Linked DNA regions of Homo sapiens: regions 2 and 3 are each linked to region 1. Evidence: fine-mapped expression QTL. A gene starts in region 1. Each other region holds a variant in brackets. All regions are shown on one strand. Distances are from middle to middle. Region 1 holds the start of YEATS4 (YEATS domain containing 4). Region 2 overlaps SLC35E3 (solute carrier family 35 member E3). Region 3 has its middle 15 kb from the start of LYZ.

Region 1 (8,810 bases):
GACTGTTACTATTTTACTTTTCCTCTTCTCTCTTCAAAGCCTCAAGACACACATTCAGCCTCCTCCTCTGCCCCCTTATCCTCCACCCTCCTCTGCTCTCAGCAGATAACCTGGCCTCATATTACACTTCTAAAACAAAAGCAACTTCATACCAAGCTTTCCCTTCTACATCCCAAAGCAGCAGTCATACCTTCCCACAGGCCCATCCTTCCTTCCTTCCCTCCTATTATCAGGATGAAGAGCCTCTGCTCCTGCCAACAGCACTGACTCCACATGCAGTTTCCCTCCCATCCCTCTCACTACTCCAAGTCAGGCTGTTTCCTGCATCCCTAGTTTGTCCCTTTTAGCTGGATCACCTCCATCATTCTACAGTCTGCCCTAGTAACCTTCCATCTTACAACAAATACTCCACTGACCCTACATAATCCTCCAACTGCAACTCCATTCTCTGCTCCCTTTACAGCAAGACTTCTGGGGAAGTATGTCTGTACTTACCAACTCCATGACCTCACCTCCCAGTGTCTTTTCAACCCTCTCTAATCTGGCTTCTATCCTCACCCAGCTGAAACTGCTCCTCCAGGATTTCTCCCATGATTCCTCAGTGCTAATTCCAGTGATCATCTTGTTCATCTCAGCAGCATTTGACAAAGTGAACCGCTTCATACTTTTAGCAGTTTTTTAATCCCTTGGCTTTTCCTTATTTACATCCTACCTCACTGACTGTTCTTTCTCAGTCCTTCTTGCTCACTCTTTCTCTGCTATTTAATTTCTAAATGTGAGAGTGCCTCAGGGCTCAAGTCTATAATAATTTTATATACTACATATTTTACTTATTTGTCTCTTCTCACCAAAATATAACTTCCAAAATGACAGAGGTTTTTCCACTTTTTAAAAAAACATTGAAATAAACTCAATCTTTTAAAAAATATAAAAGTACTGTACAAAGATCTTTTATTTTTCAGAACTGTTTTGAGAGTAAATAGCCAACATGATACCCAATGGCCCTGATTACATCAGTGTGTAATTCCTATAAAGACATTCTCCTGCATAAAACCTCAAAACAATTATCCAAATTAGGAAATTAACACTGATACATTACTACCACCTAGTCATCAGATTCCACTCAATTTCATCGATTGTCCCAATAAGACCTTCATAACAAAAGCATCTAATTCAGAATCATATTGTATTTGGTTGTCATGTTTTTTAAGTCTCTTTGAATCTGGATTATTTCCTCAGTTGTTTCTTTCTGGACTTTTTATGACCTTGCCACTTTTGAAGACCACAGACTAGTTATGTTATAGAATGTACCTAAGGTTTTTCTGGTGTTCTCTCGATTCCATTAAGTTATGCATCTTTGGTAGGAATACCACAGAAGTGATGTTCTCACTGCATCCTTTCAGGTGGCATTCAGTTTTTGCAGTTTTGATTTGCCCCATTATTGATGATGTTCACTTGGATCACTTGATTAAGGTGAGGCCTGCAAGCCATCTTCACTGTAAAGTATTTGGGGAGGAGGTGCCTTGAGACTACTGCTCATCAAATTTTCAGTTTGTTTGTTTATTTATTTAGAGGCAGGATTTCACTCTGTCGCCTAGGCTGGAGTGCAGTGGCGCGATCTCAGCTCACTGCAACCTCTGCCTCCCAGGCTTATGCAATCCTCCCGCGTCAGCCTCCTGAGTAGCTGGGACTACTCGCACGCGTTACCATGCCTGGCTAATTTTTGTATTTTTAGTAGAGATGGGGTTTTGCCATGTTGCCCAGGCTTGTCTGGAACTCCTGAGCTCAAGCAATCTGCCTGCCTTGGCCTCCCAGGTGCTGGATTACAGGTGTGAACCACCGTGCCTGGTCATGCATTTATTTATTATATCAGTATGGACCCATGGCTTCTATTTTATTCAAATCATAAGGAGTTATAGTCCATTACTATTATTTATTTTGATGTTCACACTGTCCTCGATTTGGCCAGTGAGCCCCTGCAAGTTGTCTTCTGTGCCATTTCGACATATTTCCATCATTCTTCAAGCACTTTCTTGTTTTCTGGCACAAGATATTCTAAGGCTCACCTTGTTCCTTCCTTGCTTCCAAAAATGGAAAAGGCATTTCTCCAAGGAGCCCTGATTCCTCAAAGTGCATAATAGTATTAAAAAAACAGGATCTGGGCACTAGGGTATCACTGTTTCCAGGCCCTATCAGTGAACAGAGCTGGAAGATATATGTATTTACACTATATTTATCTCTATATCTATCTATTTATATTGAAAATCATGAATCCACACCAATATCTCCAATTCTAATCTCACACCACAGGATTCACTCTAGTTTTCTTCTTTCGCATGTTTTAACTCTCTTCTCTGACAGTAAGTAACTTAGCATCCATTATACTCATTATCCTTAAAATGTATCCTTAGTACATTTACGTATTTGATGGGTTTGCCTGTATGTAACCAATTCCCCAACTCTGCCCAAGTGCTCTCCACTCAGGCTCTGACATCCCTCAGTGGGTTGCTTCCTTCCCCAACACCTGGACACCCTCCTTACCATGATACATCTCTGATTTTATAATATGCTGAACCACTGTCCTGATAGGAAGAATAGAAATTTTTCACTCATTCCACTTCTGTATTCTAAACACCTAGAAGAGTGACTGGAACATGGTACATGCTCAATCAATATCAGTTGATCGAATAAATCTCTTGCTGATTATTTAGTATGTTCCCTCCAAACTGAACATTCTAAGCTTTTTGTTTTTGAGACGGAGTCTCGCTCTGTCACCCAGGCTGGACTGCAGTGGCGCGATCTCAGCTCACTGCAACGTCCGCCTCCTGGGTTCAAGCGATTCTCCTGCCTCAGCCTCCCGAGTAGTTGGGACTACAGGTACTCGCCACCACGCCTAGCTCATTTTTGTATTTTTAGTAGAGAGGGGGTTTCACCATGTCAGGAGATCGATCTCCTGACCTCGTAATCCGCCCGCCTTGGCCTCCCAAAGTGCTGGGATTACAGGCGCGAGCCACCGCGCCCAGCCTTTTTTTTTTTTTTTTTTTTTTTTTAATTAACTCTTCAAGGCCACATGATTCCAGTACAACCGCTTGCGGGGTTCCAAGCCACTTCTTGGCTATGTAAATGCAGCACATAGACTAGCCATGTGAGGGCAGCAGAGGGCCACTACATAGGTGCAACCTTTGGCTTCAAAATTCTTGGACCATTCTGACGTGATTAAACTAAAAACGAATGAGTTTATGCATATCGAGATACCCTGAGGTGTACAAAGGATGAGTCAAGGTAGCGGAGAGAGAGTTGAAGAGTGACAGCTGAGAAACAGAGATAGGACATGTCCAAGAAGTGCCAGGATAACCCAACAACACAGGCTGATTGAGGAAACTGCCAGAGATTAGACAAAGTAGACTGAAGAGGGAAAGCAATGTTTGTTGGAGATTTTGCTTTAGTTTTTGATAAATATTTCTTAGTCATACCAATTGTTTTAAATATAATTACGCCCCCAAACCAAATTTCTACTCTTATTCTGGCAACAGAATAAAAATCAATATCAATGTTTGATCATTTTCAAAGAAACTCAGTTCCTATCTTGGTTGAAATGCAGTGACATCCATATGACAATTGAGCTCTTCATGTGGCACTAATATAACTAAGCCCTGAGCACATCCCTTGCACTTCTATTTAGTGAAGTCTTTTAAAAAGTATTTTCTTTACAGTTGTTAAGTGGAATTACTAAAAATTACAATCAGCAGTATTTTCTACTCTTTTAGCTTATTTTTTAAAATATTTATCTCCATGCTTTTCAATATTACACCTATATTGCTTCTTCTTGATTTTTCCATTTTAAGATACTGACTTCCTACTATGGAAGTTAAAGATTAAGCTCTATTTCCTCCTCCTCCATCCCCATCAAGCATAGTACCCTTCTCCAAAGCCCATCCTTCTAAATGTAATTCTTTTTTTGAGGGGGAGGGGGGATCAATACTCAGTTTTTTTTTGTTTTGTTTTTTTTTTTTTTTTGAGACGGAGTCTTGCTCTGTCACCCAGGCTGGAGTGCAGTGGTGCGATCTCGGCTCAAGGCAAGCTCCGCCTCCCGGGTTCACGCCATTCTTCTGCCTCAGCCTCCCAAGCAGCTGGGACTACAGGCGCCCACCACCACGCTCGGCTAATTTTTTTGTATTTTTAGTAGAGACGGGTTTTCACCGTGTTAGCCAGGATGGTCTCGATCTCCTGACCTCGTGATCCGCCCACCTTGGCCTCCCAAAGTGCTGGGATTACAGGCGTGAGCCACCGCGCCCGGCCAATACTCAGTATTTATGTAACAATAAATACAATTACTTTCCTTTCTTGCACAAGATTTTGTTTTCCCTAGAATTAATAGCTGCATAATTCTTACAGCCGCTTAGTTTTCTGTGTACCTGTCATGAGTTAAACTCCAAACTCTCGGTCAAATCTCCTCTTGATTCAACGCCAGCTGGAATTTTGTCAATCCCATCCTTCTGAAGCAGTGTCTCCCAAAGATTTCTGACCGAATCTAATCTAGATGCGTTGCCGTCTATGCCTATACACAGCTATTGTTCCCGGAGCTCTTTCAGTATCATCTTGGGATCTTACTATTTTCTGTGTTTGTTATTTATTGTATTTCCTGCATTTCATAATTTCCTCCTTCTTGGCTTATTCCCTCATTTTGGTGGATCAGATCTACAGGATCTTCCTGGAGGTACTGAGAAAGGTAAGATAGGTACTATTTTTTGTGTGTAGTGATTTAGCACATCTGAAACTCTATTCTATTCACACACTAGATTGGTAGTTGGATGAGTATTGAAGACTAAATCGGAAGTAATTTTCCCTCAGAGTTTTGAAGACAGTGCCGTATGGCTTCCTAGATTCTAACTGAGCAATCTGAAGCCACTCTGATTCTATAGTCTGTATAACCTGGAAGGGTGTGGGATCTCTTTTTCCTCGATGTTCAGAAAATTCACAATGATATGCCTTGACGTGGATGCTTTAATATTTGTGCTGGGTGCTTAGTAGGATCTTTCAGTGTGGAAACTCATCTCCTTAACATCTGGACAACTTTTTGAAGTCATTTATTATTTCCTGCCTTTCATTTTTTTTTTGGTTTGGAACTCCTGCACTGGTCCTGTGATGTGACTGCAGCCGCCAGGCGCGTGCGCAGTGTACACTGCGTGCGCATACGCGAGCCCGTTGCGCCTGCGCGCGGTGCGGCCGTCGCCCCTCTTTTCGCGGCGTTCTCCACCTGCGCGGGCCTGAATGGCCTTCAGGAGCACAGTCGGCCTGAGGAGTTGACGGTTACTCACCGCCGTGAGCCCAAGTAACTCGCCCTCCTTCGGCTAGAAACCCTCCGCCTGGGCCCGCGCGACAGGAGCGCGGTCTCTGAGGGGAGCGGCGACCCCGCCAGCCCCGGTCTCTTTCCCTGGCGGCGGCGGCTTCTTCCGTGGGACAATATGTTCAAGAGAATGGCCGAATTTGGGCCTGACTCCGGCGGGAGAGTAAAGGTCAGTGCCCGGACCGCCCCTCTTCCGGGGTGGCTCTCCCGCCTCGGTTCCTCCCTGCGCGGCGCGGGGAGGGCCCACTGGGTTTCCTTTCGCGCCTTTTCTCCTCGGGTTTGAACCGTGGTTTCAGGTTGGAGAGCGAGTCAGAGCCATTGAGCGAAAAACCGGCGTTCATTGGGCCCCAACTTCCTCGCGTCACTGCCAACTCCCACCCCCGCCAAAAAACAAACAGATAAATGGTGGCTTGGGGAAACCCGGACGTGGCTGCCAAGGAAACGGGCGACTCCGAGGGCTGGGAAAGCTCAGCTTGGTGCACATTCGCTGCCAATCTAGGTTATTGGTGAAGCGGTGACGCCACCCTCCTGGTGTGAGGATAACAATAACTGTAGCAAACAGTCGCTGAGCGCTTACCCGCAGTATTTCCAAGTGCGGTAACTGAGACACCGAGGCATACGAAAGCTAAGAAAATTTGCTGGAGTTCATGGTGTTCACAAAGCCTCAAAGCAAGAGCATAACACTGTGCCTGGCACATGGGGAACATTCAGTAAATGTCAACTTCTTTTGTTTTTGATGAAATTACCATAGACCCTAGCGTAATGTTTGACATTGTAATATTTATTTCCCTCACACAGCCCCTGGCACGTTAATTTTTTTTTTTTTTTGAGACGAAGTGTCTGTCTTGTTGCCCAGGCTGGAGCGCAATGGCACGATCTCGGCTCACTGCAACCTCGGCCTCCCAAAGTGCTGGGATTACAGGCGTGAGCCACCGCGCCCAGCCGTGGTTCATTCTTTTTAAAGAAAAATTTCCTTTCCTTTATAAATAAAAATCAGAAGGGGTACAAATAGTTGTTTTTATCAGGAGCCAGTGGGTCCTGCCTTAAAAATTAACGTGCAGGGCCGGGCAAGGTGGCTCACGCCTGTAATCCCAGCACTTTGGAAGGCCGAGGAGGGTGGATCACCTGAGATCAGAAGTTCAAGACCAGGCTGGTCAACATGGTGAAACCCCGTCTCTACTAAATATACAAAAATTAGCCGGGCGTGGTGGCGGGCACCTGTAATCCCAGCTACTAGAGGGGCTGAGGCAGGAAAATCGCTTGAACCCGAGAGGCGGAAGTTGCAGTGAGCTGAGATCGTGCCACTGCACTCTAGCCTGGGCGACAGAGCAAGACAATGTTTCTTTAAAAAAAAAATAGCAATAATTAGTAGGTTTTAAAATACTTATGTGTGTGTGTGTGTGTGTGTGTGTGTGTTTTGTTTTGTTTTTTTTTGAGACGGAGTTTTGCTCTTGTTGCCCAGGCTGGAGTGCACTAGCGCAATCTCGGCTCTCCGCAACCTCCACCTCCTGGATTCAAGCGATTCTCCTGCCTCCAAGCGATTCTCCTGCCTCAGCCTCCTGAATAGCTGGAATTACAGGCATGCGCCACCATGCCCAGCTAATTTTGTATTTTTAGTAGAGACGGGGGCTTCTCCGTGTTGGTCAGGCTGGTCTCGAACTCCCGACCTCGGGTGATCTGCCCGCCTCGGCCTCCCAAAGTGCTGGGATTACAGGCGTGAGCCACCGTGCCTGGCCGCTTTTCTTCATTTTTATTGTTGTTGGTTACATTCACTCAGCACTTTTCACATGTGGTAAATCTTGCTCATTGTTCTTCAGATACATTTCTGTAACTGAGCCATTGGTTTCAGATTCATGTGCAACATTCAATATTTTCACTTCAATTGAAATTTTTTATCTTTCCAACATAATCTGTCAATACGCACTGCCTTTGCACTTATCAGATATAAGAAATATGTATGTTAAACTAAGGACAAATGTAGCAAACATGTCATCAGCCACTATTTACCAAGCTTCAGTCATCCAAGTGACTCTTGGCCATTTTTGCCATGTCTGAATTCAACTGTAATATTTATTGTAACATTTACATTTAAATCAGTTTATTTTTTAAAAGCCTCTTTCTAAGCGTTAATGTTTTTTAAATTGTAGGGTGTTTGGTTGTTTTTTTTTTTTTTTTTTTTTGGAGACAGAGGCTCGCTCTGTTGCCCAGGCTGGAGTGCAATGGTATGATCTCGGCTCACTGCAACCTCTGCCTCCCAGGTTCAAGCAATTCTCCTGCTTCAGCCTCCCAAGTAGCTGGGATTACAGATGCACACCACCAAGCCCAGCTAATTTTTGTATTTTTAGTAGAGGTGGGGTTTCACCATCTTGGCCAGGCTGGTCTTGAACCTCTGACCTCAGGTGATCCACCCACCTTGGTGAAATTGTAGGTTTTAATTTCTAGTTACAGTTATTACTATTTTTTAATACTGATTAAACACGTAAGTAAAAAAGTGAAAAATGTTTGACCTTTATTCTACCTCTCACAAATTACTCCTAATATTTATACTATACTTTGGGAAACACTGCCACAGGCTAGGTGATAAGGACATTGCCACAGGTGATGCCAGTCAGAATTGGCCATTTTTATTTCAATGCCTAGCTTTCAGGTGTTTAAGAAAAGGCCTTTTGCATTTCTTTTAACAACACTCTAAAAGCGCTTTACATGGTAATTTAAATAAAAGCATTTTCAAAGAGGGAACATTGTAATTATTCTGGCGTTTTTTGTGTTAATATGAAAGGATGTGTCTGAAATTGATTTGAGAGAAATCCATATTATAAGCAAACTATAGATTGTTAGCCTGCCATTCTTTAAAGCAAGTTTTCAGAGCTCTTATTCTGCATATTTAGCTAATGGTACAATATTCATTTATTTTAAAATTATTTTTCTTTTAGGGTGTTACTATCGTTAAACCAATAGTTTACGGTAATGTTGCTCGGTATTTTGGAAAGAAAAGAGAAGAAGATGGGCACACTCATCAGTGGACAGTATATGTGAAACCATATAGAAATGAGGTAGGCACTCGTTTTTTCTGTAACTGTTTTACTTAAAGTTGTCTGTAATTTGTTTTGCTTAAAGACAACCTGTAGTTTTTTTTTTTTTTTTTTTTTTTTTTTTGAGATGGAGTCTTGCTCTGTCGCCCAGGCTGGAGTGCAGTGGCGCGATCTCAGCTCACTGCAAGCTCCGCCTCCCGGGTTCACGCCATTCTCCTGCCTCAGCCTCCCGAGTAGCTGGGACTACAGGCGCCCGCCACCACGCCCGGCTAATTTTTTGTATTTTTTGGTAGAGACGGGGTTTCACCATGTTAGCCAGGATGGTCTCAATCTCCTGACCTCGTGATCCACCCGCCTCGGCCTCCCAAAGTGCTGGGATTACAGGCGTGAGCCACCGCGCCCGGCCGACAACCTGTAATTTTTTATAGTAA
Region 2 (11,332 bases), 580 kb before region 1:
CCATTGCACTGCAGCCTGGGCAACAAGAGCAAAACTGTCTCAAATAAATAAATAATAAAAGAAAGGAGACCGGATTTATTAGATGTGGTCCGTTTTGTCTTTCTGTTCCCAAACTTAAACTGGATTATACCTGCTAATATCAGGAATATAATGATAATTGCATTCATTCAACAAAAATTTATTGAGCATATACTGTGTGCCAGGTACTGTCCTAGGCATTATGGATATAAAACAGTTTTTATGTAGAGACAGTCCTATATTTCCTGTGATCTTAAGGAACATTTGTCTAGTATTAGAGATAGGACTAATTAAACAAAAACAAGACAAGAATAATTAAACAGCAAACTCAATGAATGCTAAAGGGAACATCGTTCTGTGAGCACATAACAAAAGAATCTGGCCCAGGCTTGGCACTTGTGGAGGGAGTCCATGAGGAAAGTTTGAGCTGCAGTCATAGATACATAGAAGTTAGCTAGCTAGGCAGAGGGAGGGTATTGCATTCTGGAAAGAGGGAATAGCACATACAAATGCCTAGTGGTTGGAGGAATTGTGATGCTTTTAAAGAACTGTAAAAAGGATGGAGTCTGGAGACTAAATTTGGGAGTGGGGAGACATGGTGTGTCCTGCACCTGGAAATGTAGATAGACCTCAGGCCATACAATACCTGGAGGCTATGGTAAGCATCTTTAGTAAGAGCAAGGGGGAGTGTTGTGAGCACTGTCACAGTAAATTTCTTTTTTTGAAATTAGTGGAGGAGAACCAGAGAGATGCCAGGAGACCAGTTAGTTGGGAGATGACTGTAGTTAGAGATGGTGGTAGCTTCAAAGGTAGTGGAATGAGATAAGTGGAAATAATTGAGTAGCTGGAGTCAACTGGACTGGAGATGGATTGGAAATGGAGGGCATGAGAAGGGGTGAAGTTAAGGATCACACTTCAGCTGGGCACAGTGGCTCATGCCTGTAATCCCAGCACTTTGGGAGGCTGAGGTGGGTGGATTGCTTGAGTCCAGGAGTTCGAGACCAGCCTGGGCAAACATGATGAAACCCCATCTCTACAAAGAATACAAAATTAGCTGGGCATGGTGGTGTGGGCCTGTGGTCCCAGCTACTCAGGAGGCTGAGGCGGGAGGATCTCCTGAGCCCAGGAGTTTGAGGCTTCAGTGCGCCATGATCACGCCACTGCACTCTAGCCTGGGTGACAGAGTGAGTCCCTGTCTCAACAACAACAAAAAATCACACATGTCTGATTTGCGCAGCTTGATAGAGAATGGTGCCATTCTCTGAACTAGGAAACACAAGAAGAGGACTGAGGAGAGGGATGAGGCAGAGGAATATTATGGGCCTTCTTGATACTGAGATATCCAATTAAAGATGTTGGCCAGGCATGGTGGCTCAGGCTTGTAATCCCAGCACTTTGGGAAGCTGAGGCAGTCAGATCACTTCAGATCAGGAGTTTGAGACCAGCCTGACCAACATGGTGAAACCCCGTCTCTACTAAAAGTACAAAAATTAGCTGTGTGCGGTGGTGCATGCCTATAATCCCAGCTACTTAGGAGGCTGAGGCAGGAGAATCGCTTGAATCTGGGAGGCAGAAGCTGCAGTGATCTGAGATTGCACCACTGCACTCCAGCCTGGGTGACAGAGAGAGACTCTATCTCAGAAAAAAAAAAAAAAGATGTTAATCAAATAATTAGTTTATAGAGGCCCAGAACTCAGGAAAATGTTTAGTTGAGGTGGAGATAAAACAGGAGTTTCTGGGGTATGCCTGATAAGGAGGAAAACAGACCAAGATGAGCTTGCTGAAGAAGATAGCATAAAGCAAGAACAGACTATAACTGAAGTTGAGGAACTCTGGTATACAATGATAGAACATAATGCTGCAAAAGAAACAGAGAAGGAACAAAGAGGTGGGAGGAAAATGGGCCGGGCACTGTGGCTTATGCCTGTAATCCCAACATTTTTGAGAGGCCAAGCTGGGTGGATCTCTTGAGCTCAGGAGTTCAAGACCAGCCTGGGCATCATGGCAAAACCCTGTCTCTACAAAAAATACAATAATTAATAGTTTCGAAAGAAAGAAACCTGCCAAGCAAAAGTCCGGTCTCAGCCCGGGAGCTAGTAGCATGCAGTGGAACAGGTCTCACCTGGACGGCAGCACTGGGACTTCCAGTCCAGACTCTGCCATTCACTGGTATAGCCTTTGGCAAAGCCTTTGGGCAGCTTGCTCAAATCTTACTTCTCAGTTTCTTCACCTATAAAATGAGGGCTTTGATCCAAATAATTTCCAGGGGACTGTCCAGCTCCAAAATCCCCTGATTCTGCTTTTTCAGATTAAAATTATAATTTCTCATTTGCTTATAATAAAAGTAGATTGAATAAATTAATCAGAAGGGTTTGGTTTGTTTGACCTTTTTTTTAATTTTAATTTTTATTTTTTATTTTTTGAGACAGAGTTTCCTCTGTCTCCCAGGCTTGGTTGTTGTGGCTCAATCTCAGTTCACTGCAACCTCCGCCTCCCGGGTTCAAGCGATTCTCCCGCCTCTGCCTCCCGAGTAGCTGAGATTACAGGCACCCACCATCATGCCCAGCTAATTTTTTGTATTTTTGTAGAGACAGGGTATCACCATGTTGGCCAGGCTGGTCTTGAACTCCTGACCTCAGGTACTCCGCCCACCTCAGCCTCCCAAAGTGCTGGGATTACAGGTGTGAGCCACCACGCCTGGCCTGTTTGACCTTTATAAGATCAATTTTTTTGTTCACAAGCATTTCTTTACTCATAGATACCATTTTTATAACTTATATGAGACGCATTTAATGTAATCATATTACTTTCTTATATTAGAAGATAGGATTTCTTCTGATGTATCGAAGTTACTTTATACTTCATATGAAGTCATTAGGAGGTGAATTATTGCCAATTCAATGAATTATTTATGAGTATTAGGGGAATGTTTTTGTTATGCTGCTTTTAATTTGGAAAGCAGCATATCACTCAAACTATAGTAATTCACATTTTTCCATTTAACTAAAAATGTCTCGTAACTACTATGCCACAAGAACAAGCATGGATACTTATTTAACCAGCCAAGACTATGCATTTCTAAATATTTATTTTTTTCGGTTATCCGTAGACTTTTCCTTTTGAAATCCAACGATCTGTATCAACCACGTCTTCATTTTCCTTTTCCTGTTTGTCTTACTCTCCCCCCAAAAAGAGTCAGTTTCCTGTTTTCTCAATTTCTCAGTTTAAAATTAGAGCCCTATGGCAGGTGCCATGTACAGCTGCAAAGGTGGCAAGAAGCCCTGAGAAAGCTCAAGAAGCAGGTCAAGGGGGTGGGTAAGGAAGATGGGACGTTCAAGCAGAAACAAAAAGAGGAGCTAAAAGTGAAAGCCACCCCGCCACCAGCCCTCACCAGTCACAGGTGGAATTAAAGAAATCTGGCAAAAAATAAATTTTGTTATCCGTGCTTGGGGCGGTGACCCTTGACCCCATTCCTATTTAAACATCTGGATTCTCTGCCATAACATCTTTTGCCACCTATAGCTACAATAAAGTGTCGTCTTGGAGTCTGTTGTACATTTAAGAATAAACTTTTGTAAGGAAGTAAAAAAGAGTCTACAGTTCAGTGCAGGATAGGGATGGGTGGGCCTTAATTCAGGAGGTGGGAGGCTCAAAATCAATTACTCTGTTGAGGAGATGGAATCTCCTGGAATCTCAAAAAGGATTTCCTTTAGGAATCATCAGACTCATCCGACTCGTCAAGTCTTTCTCTGCTTGGAGTTTTGTTTTGTTTTTATTTTGTTTTGTTTTGGAGATAGGTTCTCCCTCTGTCACCCAGGCTGGAGTGCAGTGGTGCAATCACAGCTCACTGCAGCCTCGAATTCCTAGGCTCAAGTGATCCTCCCACCTCAGCCTCCTGAGTAGCTGGGACTACAGGTGTGCACCAACAGGCCCAGATAATTTTATTTTTTGTAGAGACGGGGTCTTGCTATGTTGCCAGGCTGGTCTCCAACTCCTGGCCTCAAGTGATCCTCTTGCTCTGCCTCCCGAAGTGCTAAAATTACAGCTGTGAAACACCGCGCCTGGAGTTTAAAAGCAAGATTAACCTTTTTGGACTGGAGTTCTTAGAGAATTATGGTGTGACTCATTGACCATATTTGTTAGGATCAGCATTTTTATATGATTTAACACAAAATGTTACAGAAAAAAGTGCAAAAATGTTGTAAGGCACAGTTGGTTTCCTAAGCAAATGCCCATTCCTATTCTTTGTTCATCTCCACTCTAGAGGCTAGAAATACTAAATTCTCTTTTTACCTCGTTGCCTTGTAGAGGGATGATCATATGACATTTCACCAATGGCACATAATTCAAAGTCTGCTGAGGATTTCTAGGGTATCCTGATTAAAAGGGACAGATGTGGCTGGTAGTGTCTATTACCACCTCCTTCCTGCCTTAAATGTAGCTGCGGATGTCTAGAATTGTGCTAATCAGCTTATGACTATAAAAGAGAGGTGAAGAGAGCCAGATCTGAAAGTGGTGAGCCGACCAGGCACAGTGGCACACCTGTAACCCCAGCACTTTGGGAGGCCGAGGGAGGAGGATCATTTGAGCCCAGGAGTTTGAGACCAGCCTGGGCAACATTGCAAAACCTGTTCTCTGTGAATAACTTAAAAATTAGTCAGGTGGCCAGGCGTAGTGGTTCACACCTGCAATCTCAGCACTTTGGAAGGCTGAGGTGGGTGGATCACCTGAGGTCAGGAGTTCGAGACCAGCCTGACCAACATGGAGAAACCCTGTCTCTACTAAAAATACAAAATTAGCTGGGCGTAGTGGCTTATGCCTGTAACCCCAGCTACTCGGCAGGCTGAGACAGGAGAATCGCTTGAACCAGGGAGGCAGAGGTTGCAGTGAGCTGAGACCACGCCATTGCACTCCAGCCTGGGCAACAAGAGTGAAACTCCATCTCAAAAAAAAAAAAATTAGGTATATTGGTGTGCACCTGTGGTCTCAGCTACTCAGGAAGCTGAAGCAGGAGGATTGCCTGATCCTGGGAGGTTGAGGCTGCAGTGAGCCATGATCATGCCACTGCACTATATGCTGGGCAACAGAGGGAGACCCTGTCTCAAAAACAAACAAAACAAACAAAAATAAG[C/CAA]AAAAAAAAAAAAGTGTTGAGCAGCTAAAACAATGCCGTTAGATGCCCTATCTCTTAAAAAAAAAAAAAAAAAGATAAAATAAAAGAAATTGGGTCTTGTGGCCAGGTGCGGTGGCTCACGCATAATCCCAACACTTTGGGAGGCTGAGGTGGGTGGATCACTTGAGCCCAGTAGTTTGAGACCAGCCTGGCCAACACGTCTTCTTGTTCTAGATGAAAAGTAAACCCCTATTTGGCTTACTCACTTAAAAAAATAATAATAATTAGAGACAGGGTGTTGCTATGTTGCCCTGGCTGGTCTCACTCCTGGGTTCAAGTGATCCTCCTGCCTCAGCCTCCCAAAGTGCTGATATTACAGGCGTGAGCAACCATGCCAGCCTGGCTTAGCCACTTTTAATTATTACTCGTAGCTGCAAGAATGCCAATGAGCATTTGGGGTAAAAAGGGGCAAGAATGGAGGACCTGCTCTGTCTGTCGGACTTTGGAACTCAGGAAGCAACAACTAAGCGTACTCGTTGTCTTAGTCCATTTTGTGTTGCATAGAACAGAATACCTGAAACTGGGTCATTTATAAAGAAAAGGAATTTATTTCTTACAATAGTGGAGACTGAGAAGTCCAAGGTACAGGGTCCACATCTGGTGAGAGACTTCTTGTTCCTGGGAACTCTCTGCAGAGACCCAAGGTGGCAGAGGGCCTCACGTGGTGAGGGACTTGAGCATGGTAGCTCAGGTCTCTCTTCCTCTTCTTATAAAGGCACCAGTCTCACTGGGCAGAGCCTTCATGACCCAGTCACCTTTTAAAGGCGCCATCTCTCAATATTGCCACATTGGGGATGTTTCCAGATGAGTTTTGGAGGAGACAAATATTCAAACTACAGCACTGGTTAAAAATAAAAATAGGGCCTGGCGTGGTGGCTCACGCCTGTCATCCCAGCAGTTTGGGAGGCTGAGGCAGATGGATCACCTGAGGTCAGGAGTTCGAGACCAGCCTGGCCAACATGGTGAAACCCCGTCTCTACTAAAAATATAAAAATTAGCCAGGCATGCTGGCGTGTGCCTGTAATCCCAGCTGCTCAGGAGGCTGAGGCAGGAGAATGGCTTGAACCCGAGAGGCAGAGGTTGCAGTAAGCTGGAATCACACTATTACACTCCAGCCTGGGTGACAAGAGCGAAACTCTGTCTCAAAAAAAAAAAAAAAAAAAAAAAAAAAAAAAGGCCAGACTTGGTAGCTAACACCTGTAATCCCAGCACTTTGGGAGGCCAAGGCAGGAGGATCACTTGAGGTCAGGAGTTGGAGACCAGCCTGGCCAACATGGTGAAACCCCGTTTCTACCAAAAATACAAAAATTAGCCGGGCATGGTGACGTGTGCCTGGCAGAGGTTTCAGTGAGCCGAGATCATGCCATTACACTCCAGCCTGGGTGACAAGAGCAAAACTCTGTCTCACAAAAAAAAAAAAAAGGCCAGGCATGATGACTCACGCCTGTAATCCCAGCGATTTGGGAGGCCGAGGCAGGTGGATCACTTGAGGTCAGGAGTTGGAGACCAGCCTGGCCAACATGGTGAAACCCAATCTCTACTAAAAATACAAAAATTAGCTGGACGTGGTGGCAGGCGCCTGTAATCCCAGCTACTCACTCAGGAGGCTGAGGCAGGAAACTCACATGAACCCTGGAGACGTAGGTTGCAGTGAGCTGAGATCACATCACTGCACTCCAGCCTGGGAGACAGAGTGAGACTCCGTCTCAAAAAAAAAAAAAGAAAAGAAAAATTAGTCAGCTGTGATGGTGTGCACCTGTAGTCCCAGCTACTCTGAAAGCTAAGGCACGAGAATCGCTTGAACCTGGGAGGCGGAGGTTGCAGTGAGCTGAGATCATGCCACTGCACTCCAGCCTGGATGACAGAATGAAACTGTGTCTCAAAAAGAAAAAAAAAAACAAAAACTAGTAGCTAGCCCCACCCCCGCCATTTTTCCAGACTCCAGAGAGTGGGGTGTGTGGAAGACAGGGACTGGTCTGGTGGCATGTAGATTCATAAATGGCGTCCAAACCTGGAGCTGTTGCTGGCTTGGAATGAATGAACCAGTTCCAGCCAGGAACAGACTTTCCCACCAAGTGGGAGGTGGTCTACCTGCCCTTCACCATCATCTTTGTGCTCTCTGACACTGGTCATCCTCAGTTACCCAATATACCCCTCGCCCCAGCCCCATCCCTAGTCACCCCTCATTCCTAGTAGTACCCCCAGTTCTGCTTCAATTTGATTCAGCAGATCAAGAAAGCACTATCACCAATGGTCGCAAGGTCATGCTTAAGTCTTGGAACTGGCCATCAGTGTGAAAGTTCAACAGGTATTCAGTAAGCAGATCTAGGAAAAACTCACTCTAATAACGTTCCAGGAATTTCCTAAGACCATAGTGGGAGACAGCTGCATCAGAGGCCTCCCAGTGCCATAGGACCATGGACATTGGTGAGCAACTGTGTGCTGGGAGGAAATGGCTGCTTATTGGCATGGAGTTATTGAATGCAGAACTTTTCAGCCAAGCACAGTGCTATTCTTCTGAAATCATAACATCATGAGGACATCCACTGCTTGTACTCAAATAGCATTCCTCACAGGAATGTCACACCTGTGACTCTCTCATACCTCCAAAATCTCACTGCTGTTCTGAAACGCAAGAGATTTTGCCAAGGAAATGCTGACATTCCTTCTGTCCACTCCTCTCCCCACACTGCACTGTGTGGCCCCAGAGAGGAAAGACAAGGGCTGTTACCATGGAGTTCTTGAATTTCATTATTTATCTCCCAACACAACTTTGGCCTCACCCTCTTCCCCAGCGTGAAGACGCACAACCCAAGTGGGACAGTCTGAATTTCCCCACCCTCAGGTGTCAGAGAATCAGAGGAAGTCATGCTGCTTATCTAGAATCTGCTAGAAATGGAGTTCACCCAAAGAATGACCATCACAGAATTTATGAACTACTCCTAGATCATGCAATTAATAAGTCCTCTAGCCCAGTACCACTCAAGGTAGGGTCTGGGCCCCAGTACCAGTCCATAAACAGTTTGCTGCCGGCTGGGTGTGGTGGCTCATGCCTATAATCCCAGCACTTTGGGAGGCCAAGGTGGGCGGATCACTTGAGATCAGGAGTTTAAGACCAGCCTGGCCAACATGGTGAATCCCCGTCTCTATAAAAAGTACAAAAATTAGCCAGGTATGGTGGTATGTGCCTGTGATCCCAGCTACTCGGGAGGCTGAGGTGGGAGGATCACCCAAGCCCAGGGAGGTCGAGGCTGCAATGAGCCACCGTGATGGTGAACTGCACTCCAGCTTGAGTGACAGAGTGAGATCCTGTCTCAAAAAAAAGGGCGGGGTGCGGGGATTTTGGGTAGTAATATCAATAGCAGACAAAATAGAATTTGAGGCAAAAAGTGTTAATAGGATCAAGATTTTTTTTTTTAAAGAACAATCCACCACAAACATAGCAATCATGAACAACCCAGAAAACAGCATGAAAATTAAAAGGAAAATTGAGATTTTAAATACTTCTAATAGAGGTGATAGAGCAGGCAGCAGGGAAGTTAGTAACCTTGTCTAATAGGTTATCTGTACTCAACAAGCCTAGAACACACACTCCTTTCAAGTACCTGAGGAATGTTTATAACAGTAAAGATGAACAGAGATCATATTATAAATAGTTGGAAGATTTATTTTTTATTTTGTTTTTTAGAAACAGGGTCTTGCCGGCCAGGCGTGGTGACTCATGCCTGTAATCTCAGCACTTTGCAAGGCCGAAGCGGGTGGATCACCTGAGGTCAGGAGTTTGAGACCAGCCTAGCCAACATGGCGAAACCTCGTCTCTACTAAAAATACAAAAATTAGCTGGGCGTAGTAGTGGGTGCCTATAATCCCAGCTACTTGGGAGGCTGAGGCAGGAGAATTGCTTGAACCGGGAGGGTAGAGGTTGCAGTGAACCATGGTCGCACCACTTCACTCCAGCCTGGACAAAAGAGCAAAACTCCATCTCCAAAAAAAAAAAAGAAAAGAAACTGAGTCTTATGGCTGGATGCAGTGGCTCACGCCTGTAATCCCAGCACTTTGGGAGGCCAAGGTAGGTGAATCACTTGAGCCCAGGAGTTTGAGACCAACCTGGCCAACATGGCGAAACTCCATCTCTACTAAAAATACAAAAGTTAGTTGGGCGTGGTGGTGTGCCCCTGTAATCCCAGCTACTCAGGAGGCTGAGGCAGGAGAATTGCTTGAACCCAGGAGGTGGAGGTTGCAATGAGCCACTGCACTCCAGACTGCATTCCAGCCTGGGCGACAGAACAAGACTCTGTCTCAAAAACAAAAACAAAAACAAAAAACTAGGTCTTTCTCTGTGGCCGACGCTGGAGTGCAGTGCCTTTTTGCAGGCACAATCATAGTGCACTGCAGCCCTGAACTCCTTGGCTCAAGTAATCCTCCTGCCTCAGCCTCCTGAGTAACTGGGACTATAGGTATGCCCTACCATGTGTGGCTATATTTGGTAGGTTTTAAATGAAAAGATTTTTGTTTTCTGTACATTTATTTAAATTTAAAAAGTATTTAAGCCATCTTTAAGAAACTTAATGTTGAGAATGTTCTAGAATAGTGAGTCATTAGATTTCAAAATATTGGTATTGAACCAGATGGTCTTGTGGCTTCAAAGAAGTCTCTGAAGTCACTCCAGGTGATATTAAAAGTACAGTGCTAGGACTGTCTGACCCAAAATATGTGGCTGGAACCAGAAAGGATATAAGCATGGTTTGAGAAGGAAAAAAAGCTTAACAAGGGGGAATTGAGGAAGCCATTTGCAAAACTTCACAGGAAAGTTAAATGAATGAATGAATAAAATGTGATTAATAAATATGGGGGCCAGGTACAGTGGCCTGCATCTGTAATCCCAGTGTTTTGGGAGGCCAAGGCAGGAGGTGCACTTGAGGCCAGGAGTTCAAGACCTGAGCAACACAGCAAGACCCCCGTCTCTATAAAAAATTTTATAAAATTAGCCGGGCATGGTGGTAGACACCTGTAGTCCCAGCTACTTGGGAAGATGAGGCAGAGGATTGCCTGAGCCCAGGAGTTTGAGGTTATAGTGAGCCATGACTGTGCCACTGCACTCCAGCCTGGGCAACAAAGTGAGACCCTGACTCTAAAAGTAAAATTAAATTAAATTAAAAATAAGTGGATAAATATGGGTTATGCTGTGAAGCATAGAGGGAGGGATGAAGAGGGACATTTTAAGCCACTTCTCTGGCCCCAGTTTCTAACATTATTTCTAAAATGCAGGATATCTGGTTATCCCAAACCAGTTATATTTTTATTTAAATTTGCTCAAAATTTTTATTTTTAAATCTTAACAATTTCTAAAATCACACTTTTTAATTTATTTTGTATTTTTTTGAGACAGGGTCTTACTTTGTCACCCAGGCTGGAGTGCAGGGGCACAAACATGGCTCACTGCAGCCTCGACCTCCCAGCCTCAAGTGATACTCCCGCCTCAGCCTCCCAAGTAGCTGGGACTACAGGCATGCACCACCACACCTGGCTAATTTTTTTATATTTTGTTTGTAGAGATGGGGTTTCACCATGTTGCCCTGTCTAGTCTTGAAACCTTGAGCTCAAGAGATCTGCCCACCTTGGCCTCTCAAAGTGCTGGGATTACAGGCGTGAGCCGTCCTGCCTGGCCTAGTCACACTTTTTTTTTTTTTTTTTTTTTTGGAGACAGAGTTTCACTCTTGTTGCCCAGGCTGGAGTGCAATGGCATGATCTGGACTCACCGCAACCTCCGCCTCCTGGGTTCAAGCGATTCTCCTGCCTCAGCCACCCAAGTAGCTGGGATTATAGGCATGCACCACTATGCCCGGCTAATTTTGTATTTTTAGTAGAGACAGGGCTTCTCCATGATGGTCAGGCTGGTCTCGAACTCCTGACCTCAGGTGATCTGCCCGCCTCGGCCTCCCAGTGTTGGGATTATAGGCATGAGCCACCGCGCCCAGCTAGTCACGCTTTTTAGTCAAGATTTTTAAAAATGTCTGCATGCTTTTCTGAGAGCCTTACCTCTCTTGTGATTTGAAGCATTTTCTCCACCAGGCCTAAGGCTGAAGGAATGTAGTTTGCTGCCCTTCAGTCTATGACAAGGAGGTCTGTTTCCTCCAACGCCTG
Region 3 (9,076 bases), 26 kb before region 1:
CCCCTAATTTTCAGAAAGGATGTTTTGCTATCAGTCCCATGGTTTTCGGTTCCTGCCTTTTTGCTTTGTAATGATCATTTCCCGTAAGTGTAGATTTACATCACAATGCTTTATGTTTATAATTATAATTAACAACATATATGCATTTTGCTTCAGATGTTAATATTCATAAGCATAATGCTAAAGTAGATGTATATAATTCAACCAAACTTGACTTTTTAAGTGACAGTTCATCATAATTACTCAGTACTTTTTCCTCAGAAAAGTAGCAACAGGTGGAGTAAAGTAGGTTTTGGGATAGTTTTCTGAGGTATTGCTCCTCACACTTGAGGGCATTAGCTGCAGGGGTCTGCCCTCAGACCCTGACCCAAATGACAGAAGAATAAAACATACATTGACACGTAGATATTGTTAGAAGCTGGAAAGGGAGTGTCTGCCTAGATGATAGGACTGAAAAAAGGCAGATTTAAGGGATGAGCTTAATAGAGTGTAGCAGGTATAGGTAGTAGGTAAAGTGAGAGAATTTAAAATGAATAAATTATCTGGCTTAGACTTTTCCTTCTTTAGCATAATGCCTGGGACCTGTGTTGTCTTCGGAAGCCACATTGTTGAGGCTGCGGGTCCTGTATGTCTTTTCTCAGGCTGGCTTGAGTTTTTTCTTCTTTCCATCCTTTGATAAGAATGTAGTCTCCAGGCTGGTGCTGGTGTACTGGAAATTCTAGGGGTGGTGCCTGTGCTGAGAGACTTTTTACAGTCTTTAAAGAGCAGGTTAGTGTTTTAAGAAAAACTTGTTGTACTTTAATGTCTAGTTTACAGAAAAACTGGATGATACCTTTTTTATTTTAGCCAATATGTTTACACACAGAATTTTTTTTACAATTAACGTTTTAAAACTTGTTTAGACCTTCAAAACAAAAATTATATATTTCCTGCATAAATTCCTTTTCATAACATTCTTCACAACTTTCACAGACAATCTTTAACATGGCTTAACTTTCTGACTATGTTTTATAACCTTCCTTACTAAAGGTGCATTCTTATATCTGTAACTTTAATATTTCTTTCCTTTCTTCCTACTTTCTCTCCTTAGTCTTTTTGTGTCTGTCTCTGATCTGTCTTTTCTAGTCTCTTTCTTACTCATTCTTTCCCTTTATTTCTCTTTTTAATGTGCACTAATTAGGTGAGTGTTGGTATTAACGGATACATGTATATATCTTAGTTTCCCAAATTTAGGGATGTAACATCTGTTTGCCACAACTGATTAGGTTCCAATCCTCTAGGGTTAACACCTGTTGAAAGAGGGGCTGTGCCTGTGAGCTGGCAATCTGGGCACCGTCAGATAATTTGTTTAGCCAATCTCTGTATAAGTTGAAGTTGTTTAAGATGAGTTTCTCTAATTTTAGTAGAAAAATTGATGCAATTGGGTGGCTTGGTCTAGCAGTGATGTTACAACCTGAAGAGCTGCTTGATCATTGCCATAAGCCAATGGGCCAGGCAGAGAGCTGTGGGCTCGAATGTGTGTAATAAAAACAGGATGTGTACGTTGGTGTAGCAATTGCTGAAGTCGGAGAAAAAGAGCACACAGAGTGGTCTCCAGAGCTAACTTCATGCTGTAAAAGTTCTTTAATAAATAAACAGAGTAACCTCAGCTCTCTGAGTGCTAGTAAACTCTGAGTGATGGAATTGTGTGGTCTCTACTAGACTGCCGCTTTTCCATGTTTACCAGACCCATCAGTAAACAGTGTTAAAGCATTAGGTATGGGGAAGTGCAATACCGCTTCGAATTACCTTTTACTTAAAGGAATCCTGATGATATCAGGGTTATAACTTAGCAATTGACTGCATTAATCATTAAGATGGCAAGTTGAAATAAGTAACATGAAATTTAAAAAGAAAATCTGAAAGCATCTCTAGAAGCAGAAACTTAAATAATATACTTTAACCATGTGCTTAAAGCCACAGGCAGAACAGCTTAAATCTTGCAATTGAGTTTTCAAGCTGATCAAGTTTATGGACTTTAATCTGGCCAACAGTCTTGAAAACAGTGACCCAGTAGTTGGGAAACTGAATTCAGGACTCTTTTAGCAAGTAGAAATCAAAAGACTATCTAATCAGTGGGTTACGACAGTCATTCATGCATATGCTTTCACTACACTTACATACAACTTTTCTTCTAATTTAACAAATATGATTTAGTTAGGTTTAAAGTTCTCCTTTAAAGGGTAATGTGTGGTTTTACATGCCTAGCTTTTAACTACTCTTTAACTAATTCATCGGCCTTCTGTAATCTCTCTCCCTTCAGAGGTTACTGTTTTACCTAAATTGGATTTGGAGAGCTACGTCAGGGGTAGGAGAGAGAGAGCAACAGTGGCCATTATCAGAAAAGAGGTTTTTCAAATTCTTACATTTTACTTAAATTTTAGCAGAGAATTATAATCTGGGATGTCGCTTGTAAACAAGGAGCACTTGCCTTGGGTCACCTGCAGAGCTAGAGAGCTGAGCCGGCGGGTCCCTGGGCGGTAGCTGTTTTACTCTTGTAAAAGCGCTGCCTTTTGCCTGTGCTGGCTCTGTTTCTGTGAACTTCCGGGCTGCCGAGCCTTTCTTTTTATTTACTGCTTGCTCGGCTGCACGGCTTTCGGCTCCTAATGCCTTTTTTCTTATCTTTTTATAAACATACACCTGATTGCCTTGCCGATTCTGCATTACTGGGCAGAGTAAGAGCTCTGCTTCTAATGCTGCCCGCTTAAGACAGGGACTGATAGCTGTAGCATATCCTAGGTCTTTTTTCCTATCTATTGGAGGAGGAGGCTCAGGTATAAACCCCCGTTTCCTCTGTTATTTCGGCCCGGTGATATTAGGGTGGAGGGAAGAGGAGGTGATAAGGCAGGTGACATTTTCTCCTCCTTGCTCTTTTTAGGCTCTTCTGCGTGTAACAGAGCTAAGGCTGCTCTAATTAAAGCCTATAACGTTAAAGCTGTTACTGGGACCTGTTGCCTTTGCACATGTTAAGATTTCTCCCCATTTGTTCCCAGAGTTCTACGTCTAGCGTTCCTTCTTCCGGGAACCACGGGCTTGGGATCACAAGAGTTTGCATTGCAACAGTTTGTCTAGCATGGATGATTAGGTCCCTTAATTGAGCCTGTGAAACTGAGGCTCCGCTAGCCTTAAGTAACTGTTTTAATACTTTCATATAATGTTTCTGCTGTGCTAATAACTGTGGTCCCATGATGAAAACTCAGCTTGACCCAACTTCCCCCAGAACTTGGTAACTTTGAGTGGGCACCAATGACTTGCTGATTACTCACTGACTTGACCGCGCGGTTCCTTTCTTCACCTTTGTTTTCCGGGGGGTCCGTCGCTTTTCCTTCACGCTTCCTTCGCAGCTTTCCTCATGAGGGCAGTCCTCACTCTTCCTAGGCAGCTTGCCTCAGGAGGGGCTCCAACTGCGGGGAGTCTGTTTCTGCAGACCCCTGACTGGCCTCACACGGCTTTCCTCACAGGGCTTTCCTCACACGGGTTTCCTCACACAGGCCACCAGCTGAGGTATTGCTCCTCACACGTGAAGGCATTAGCCGCGGGGTCTGCCCTCAGACCCTGACCCAAACGACAGATGAATAAAACGTACACTGACACACAGATATTCTGTTTTGCCAGTCCAGCTGAGTGTCCAGCCGCCTGCACACCTAGAGAGGTTTGTCACTGTGGACGGCCCTGAGCAGCTCGAACTCCAGGCATTTATTTAGTATACAATTAACAACAGAAGCTTTGAGTAAACTTGAGTAAACACACTTTGAGTAAACTTGAGTAAACACACTTGTGGATAATTAACATGGTTAAGAGAGTAGTTCTAGGAATGATTAAAACTCAGGTACCACGGTCTCAGGTAAATACTATCAGGCCTCTCAGCCCAAGCTAAGCCAGATGGCCTGAAGCAACTGAAGATCCACAAAAGAAGTGAAAATAGCCTTAACTGATGACATTCCACCACAGTGATTTGTTTCTGCCCCACCCTAACTGATCAATGTACTTTGTAATCTCACCAACCCTTAAGAAGGTTCTTTGTAATCTCCCCACCCTTAAGAAGGTTCTTTGTAGTTCTCCCCACCCTTGAGAATGTACTTTGTGAGATCCACCCCCTGCCCACAAAACATTGCTCCTAACTCCACCGCCTATCCCAAAACCTTTAAGAACTAATGATAATCCACCACCCTTTGCTGACTCTCTTCAGACTTAGCCCACCTGCACCCAGGTGAAATAAACAGCCTTGTTACTCACACAAAGCCTGTTTGGTGGTCTCTTCACAGGGACGCGTGTAACAAATACCATTAGGGGGCAATATCCTTGGTAGACCTCCCCAGAGAAGGCCATCTGGCTCAAAGGTTAGTTAATTGAAGTTGGGTAAACAGACTTAACTGGGGAAGCCTCTGTTGTCCCTTGTATTTACCCTATGACCTAATGCTCTAAGGTAAGAACTGGCCGCCTTGGCCTGTTCAATTATTACAAGCTATGTAAACTTTCGGCCTTCTAAAAGGTTTGTGACTATTTCCTATAACTTTCCCTAATATTTCCCTTTATTCTTTCTGCCACCATCCTGAGTGAATCCCAACAGTTTTCTCCCCTTGCAAAATGTACCACGTTCAAAAGTTTGAAGATCACTGTCTTTATTATCATCTTGCCTTTCATTTTGGCCTTCCTTCTCCAAACACGCACACACCCCCACACACACCAAATCACTTTAGTCTGTCCTAGCAAAAAGTGATCTATGGTCCTTTTTGGCACACAAAAAAATACAATTGTGTCATTCCTTTTACTCGGAAGACTTCAGTTTTTACATTGCCTTCAGCAGTGATTATTAACCTATTTTAGGTACTTATACTTTTGAGAATAAATAATAAAGCTTTTTACTTTCTTCTGAGAAAAATATGCAATATAATTTTATATAATTTTGGAGGTTTAGCAACACCTCTGAAGCCTATCCATAGATCTTCTAGGGATCCTTCACCTAACCTATACAATAAAAATGGAATTTCCTTTTAATAGCATAAAAGATTCTTCATTTACCCAGCCAAGCTCTTCACTTCCACTTTCTACTTTGAAAGGAACTTCCACAGCATACCATATTCTTTCTTATACCTTTTTTCCTTTCTTTTCTTTTTTTATTTTATTTTTTATTTTTATTTTTTTTTGAGACAGAGATTCCTTCTGCAACCCAGGCTGGAGTGAGTGCAGTGGCACAATGATGGCGCTACCTCGTGAGCTCAGGTGATCCTCCTACCTCAGCTTCCAGAGTAGCTAGGACTACAGGCATGTAACATCATGCCTGGCCAATTTTTTTTTTAAGAGACAGAATCTCACTATGTTGCCGAGGCAGTGTTTATTTTTAAATAAACTTTTAATTTCAGCATAGTTTGAGATTTACAAAAAAATCCTGAAGATAAGACAGTTCATTTCTGTATTCCCCACACCCACTTTCCCTTATTACTAACATCTTACATCAATAAGGTACCTTTGTTACAATTAATGAACCAATATTGATATGTTATTATTAGCTAAAGTTCATACTCTATTCAGATTTTTTAGTTTTTACCTAATGCCCCTTTTCTGTTACAGGATCCTATCCAGGGTGGCATATAACATTTTGTTGTTGTATCTCTTCTGGCTTCTCTTGGCTGTGACAGTTTCTC[A/G]GAATTTCCTTGTTTTGATGAGCTTGGCAGTTTTGAGTACTCATCAGGTATTTTGTAGAATAATCTTCATTTGAGGTTTGTCTGATGTTTTTCTTATGGTGAGACTGGGGTTATATGTTTTGGAGAGAAAGACCACAGAGGCAAATACCATTTTCATCACATCATATCAAGGATGCATACTTATCAATGTGGCTTATCACTGTTGATGTTAACATTGATCTACTGACTGAAGTAGAATTTGTCAGGTTTCTCTCCTGTGAAATTATTCTTTTCCCTCGTTTCCATACTGTATTCTTTGGAAGGAAGTCACTATGCACAGCCTCAATACTTCCTTGAGGGCAGAGTATCTACATAAAGTACTTGAAATTCTCCTGCATGGAAGATTTGTCTATTCTTCCTTTCTTTTATTTTTAAATATGTTTACCTCTACCTGGAATGCTGAAATAACACAATTTCAAAATGTCAGTGGCTTAACACGCATTTTATTCCTTATTCATTCCAAAATGCCTATCACAGTTTAGCAAGTGGCTCTGCTCCACATAGTCACTCAGACGCTCAGGCTGCCGGAGGTTCCACCATCAGGTAGCTAGCTACACTTTCTGAAACATACAACTTCATCAGTTGCCAAGGAAAAGTAAGAGCACTGGAGTGTTTTGCACCAGCAGTTAAATGTTTCAGCTTAGAAATGACATTTCTACCCATAGCTCATTGCCTAGACTTAGCTACATCACTCCGCCTAACTCTACAAGGGGACAGGGAAGTATAATCCTCCTCTGTGCCTGGAAGGAGAGGGAACTAGATATGGGTGAGTATTGGAAGTTTCTACCACAAGTCTTCTACCCCACTTGTCCACTAAACAAAATTCTATTCTTCCCCCAATTCTCATTCAGCTGAAATTCTATGAAGCGTTCACCATCTCTTCCAGACAGACTTCAGGTTCCCTCCATGCTCCATCATCACTTTGTAGCTATCACCATTAAAACTATTACATTGGATTATAATTGTTGGTTTGCATGTTCTGTAGAAGAAAACAACCATGTTTTTTCACCTTGGTATCCTCAGCATCAATACAGTGCCTCTTACATAGAAAAATATTCAGTCAATTTTTATTCTTGGCTGGGCGCAGTGGCTCACACCTGTAATCCCAGCACTTTGGGACACTGAGATGGGAGGATTGCTTGAGCCCAGGAGTTTGAGACCAGTCTGGGCAACGTAGTGAGACCCTATCTCTACAAAAAATGAGAAATCAGCTGGGTGTGCTGGTGGTGCACCTGTAGTCCCAGCTACTCAGGAGGTTGAGGCAGGAGGATCCCTTGAGCCCAGGAGGTTGAGACTGCAGTGAACTATGATCACGCCACTGTACTTCAGTCTGGGCAATAAGACCCTGTCTGTCTCGATTAAAAAAAAACTTTTATTATATTGAACTAATGAATAGATAAATTCTTAAACTTTGTAACCAAATGTTATACAGGACCTTATTCTATAATAAAATTATAGTGTTCTTAGCAATGAAAGTGGAATTTTTTTGTCCATATTAAATTTTTTTTTTTTTTTTTGAGACAGGGTCTCTCTGTGTCACCCTGGCTGGAGTGCAGTGGTACAATCTCAGCTCATTGCAACCTCTGTTCCTCCTGGGCTCAAGCAATCCTCTTGCCTCAGCCTCCCGAGTAGCTGGGACTAAGGCGCATGCTACCACGCCCGGCTAATTATTTGTATTTTTTGTAGAGATGGGGTTTTGCCATGTTGCCCAGGCTGGTCTCGAACTCCTGGGCTTACACGATTTGCCCACCTCGGCCTCCCAAAGAGCTGGGATTACAGGTGTGAGCCATGGCACCCAATCCCCTATTAACTTTAAATGAAGTATTGAATCATACCTTCAAATAGTTTCTACCCAGATTGGTATGAGAAATCCTGTGCCTCAAACATATGGTCTTATTTCTAATGTATTCCAGAGGGCTAAGTTAACTGTGTATTTTTAAAAATTATTCTCTCGGCCAGGCACAGTAGCTCACATGGTGGATCATACCTATAATCCCAGCACTTTGGGAGGCTGAGGTGGGCGGATCACTTGAGGTCAGGAGTTTGAGACCATCCTGGCCTGGTGAAACCTGTCCCTACTAAAAAATACAAAAATTAGCTGGGCATGGTGGTGGGCGCCTGTAATCCCAGCTACTCAGGGAAGTTGAGGCAGGAGAATTGCTTGAATCCAGGAGGCGGAAGTTGCAGTGAGCTGAGATTGTGCCACTGTATTCCAGCCTGGGTGACAGAGCGAGACTCCATCTCAAAAAAAAAAAAATTAAATAAATAAATAAAAACTATTCTCTCTCTTTTTTTAACTCTAAGCTATATTTTGTAATTATTTTCTAATAATTAAAAAAACACATTCCTCTGTAGTTTGTGGTTGGCTTTTATTTAGAACTTTGTGTTACTTCATTGCATCATATGTAACGTCAGAATCCTGTTTTAAAACACATGTTCAGAAGAGAAGAGCAACAATTTAATTGTAGGTGGGATGTATTTTTTATACAGTGACTTTACCAAATTTGTTGAGTGGTTACATTGTACAAGTGAAGGTTTCTTACTGGGAAGGCAGAAGCAAAGGTTTAAAGGAGCATAAGCCCTCGAAAAGCTCATGATAGCAGTTATAAAGACAATACAACAGCAAACAATAATAGAAAATGAAGTCATAGATGATATGTAATGACATATGTGTGTTTTTAACACTAAGTCCTCTGAGTTCAAGAATGGCACGTTCTGGGTGTGGAGTGGGTCAGAAGAGAGAAAACCTGGAGTTAAGGGGATTAGTAAGAAAGCCATGTACTAACATGAAGTTATCATGAAGTCCATACATGAAATTCAGGTCTAAAATAGATGCTACACTCCACAGAGGAGATTTAACTTGCAGTGTGATTGAATTCCTTACATAGATATGATAATTCTAAGTGTAGTTTTTATGTGTTTAGGTTTATTTTACTCCCTTTGTTTTCACAAAAATTAGTAGTCAAGTAGTAGCAGATTAGGGTTTAGCATCCTATTTTTAAAATAACATTTCTAATTTACTGTTAGTCTTCAATTACATGTCAGTTTGAAACAGCAGTCAAGGAAATTATTTTCTAAAATAAATGTGTGATCTCAACACAGTGTTTCTGGAACTAAAAAAACCCACACAAAATAGATGTGTGAGACACTGATACCAGCCCTTATCCTCTTTGGGTCAGGCTGACTTGATTGCAAGGCCTGGGTGTAAATGGCACTACATTTGTGGGTTCAGTTTCTACTTGACTGAGGTGGAAATAGAGTATTTCCATGCTGGCAACCAGCTACCTCACAGAGGTATTGTGTACTGGAGTTGGAAATAGAGTATTTCCATGCTGGCAAACAGCCACCTCACA

Evidence for each region. PIP is the estimated chance that this variant, and not a neighbour inherited with it, causes the effect.
Region 2: its variant is fine-mapped to the expression of YEATS4 in monocytes after LPS (Kim-Hellmuth 2017, PIP 0.95).
Region 3: its variant is fine-mapped to the expression of YEATS4 in whole blood (TOPMed, PIP above 0.99).

The regions. Positions count from the first base shown.
Region 1 is chr12:69,354,508-69,363,317 of GRCh38, forward strand. YEATS4 (YEATS domain containing 4) reads left to right here and starts at 5,236. Exons shown (of 7, transcript NM_006530.4): 1 at 5,236-5,516; 2 at 8,281-8,400. The coding sequence starts at 5,466. RefSeq lists enhancers at 4,980-5,583, 5,141-5,330, 5,584-6,185 and a silencer at 5,611-5,770.
Region 2 is chr12:68,769,617-68,780,948 of GRCh38, forward strand. It overlaps SLC35E3 (solute carrier family 35 member E3), which reads left to right. Exons shown (of 5, transcript NM_018656.5): 5 at 1-11,332. It also overlaps the pseudogene LOC100422438. Among named protein-coding and RNA genes, the nearest start is that of SLC35E3, 29 kb to the left of the region's middle. The variant C/CAA (reference allele first, on the strand shown) is at 5,150.
Region 3 is chr12:69,328,597-69,337,672 of GRCh38, forward strand. No RefSeq gene overlaps it. Among named protein-coding and RNA genes, the nearest start is that of LYZ, 15 kb to the right of the region's middle. RefSeq lists enhancers at 2,574-2,733, 3,574-4,288. The variant A/G (reference allele first, on the strand shown) is at 5,685.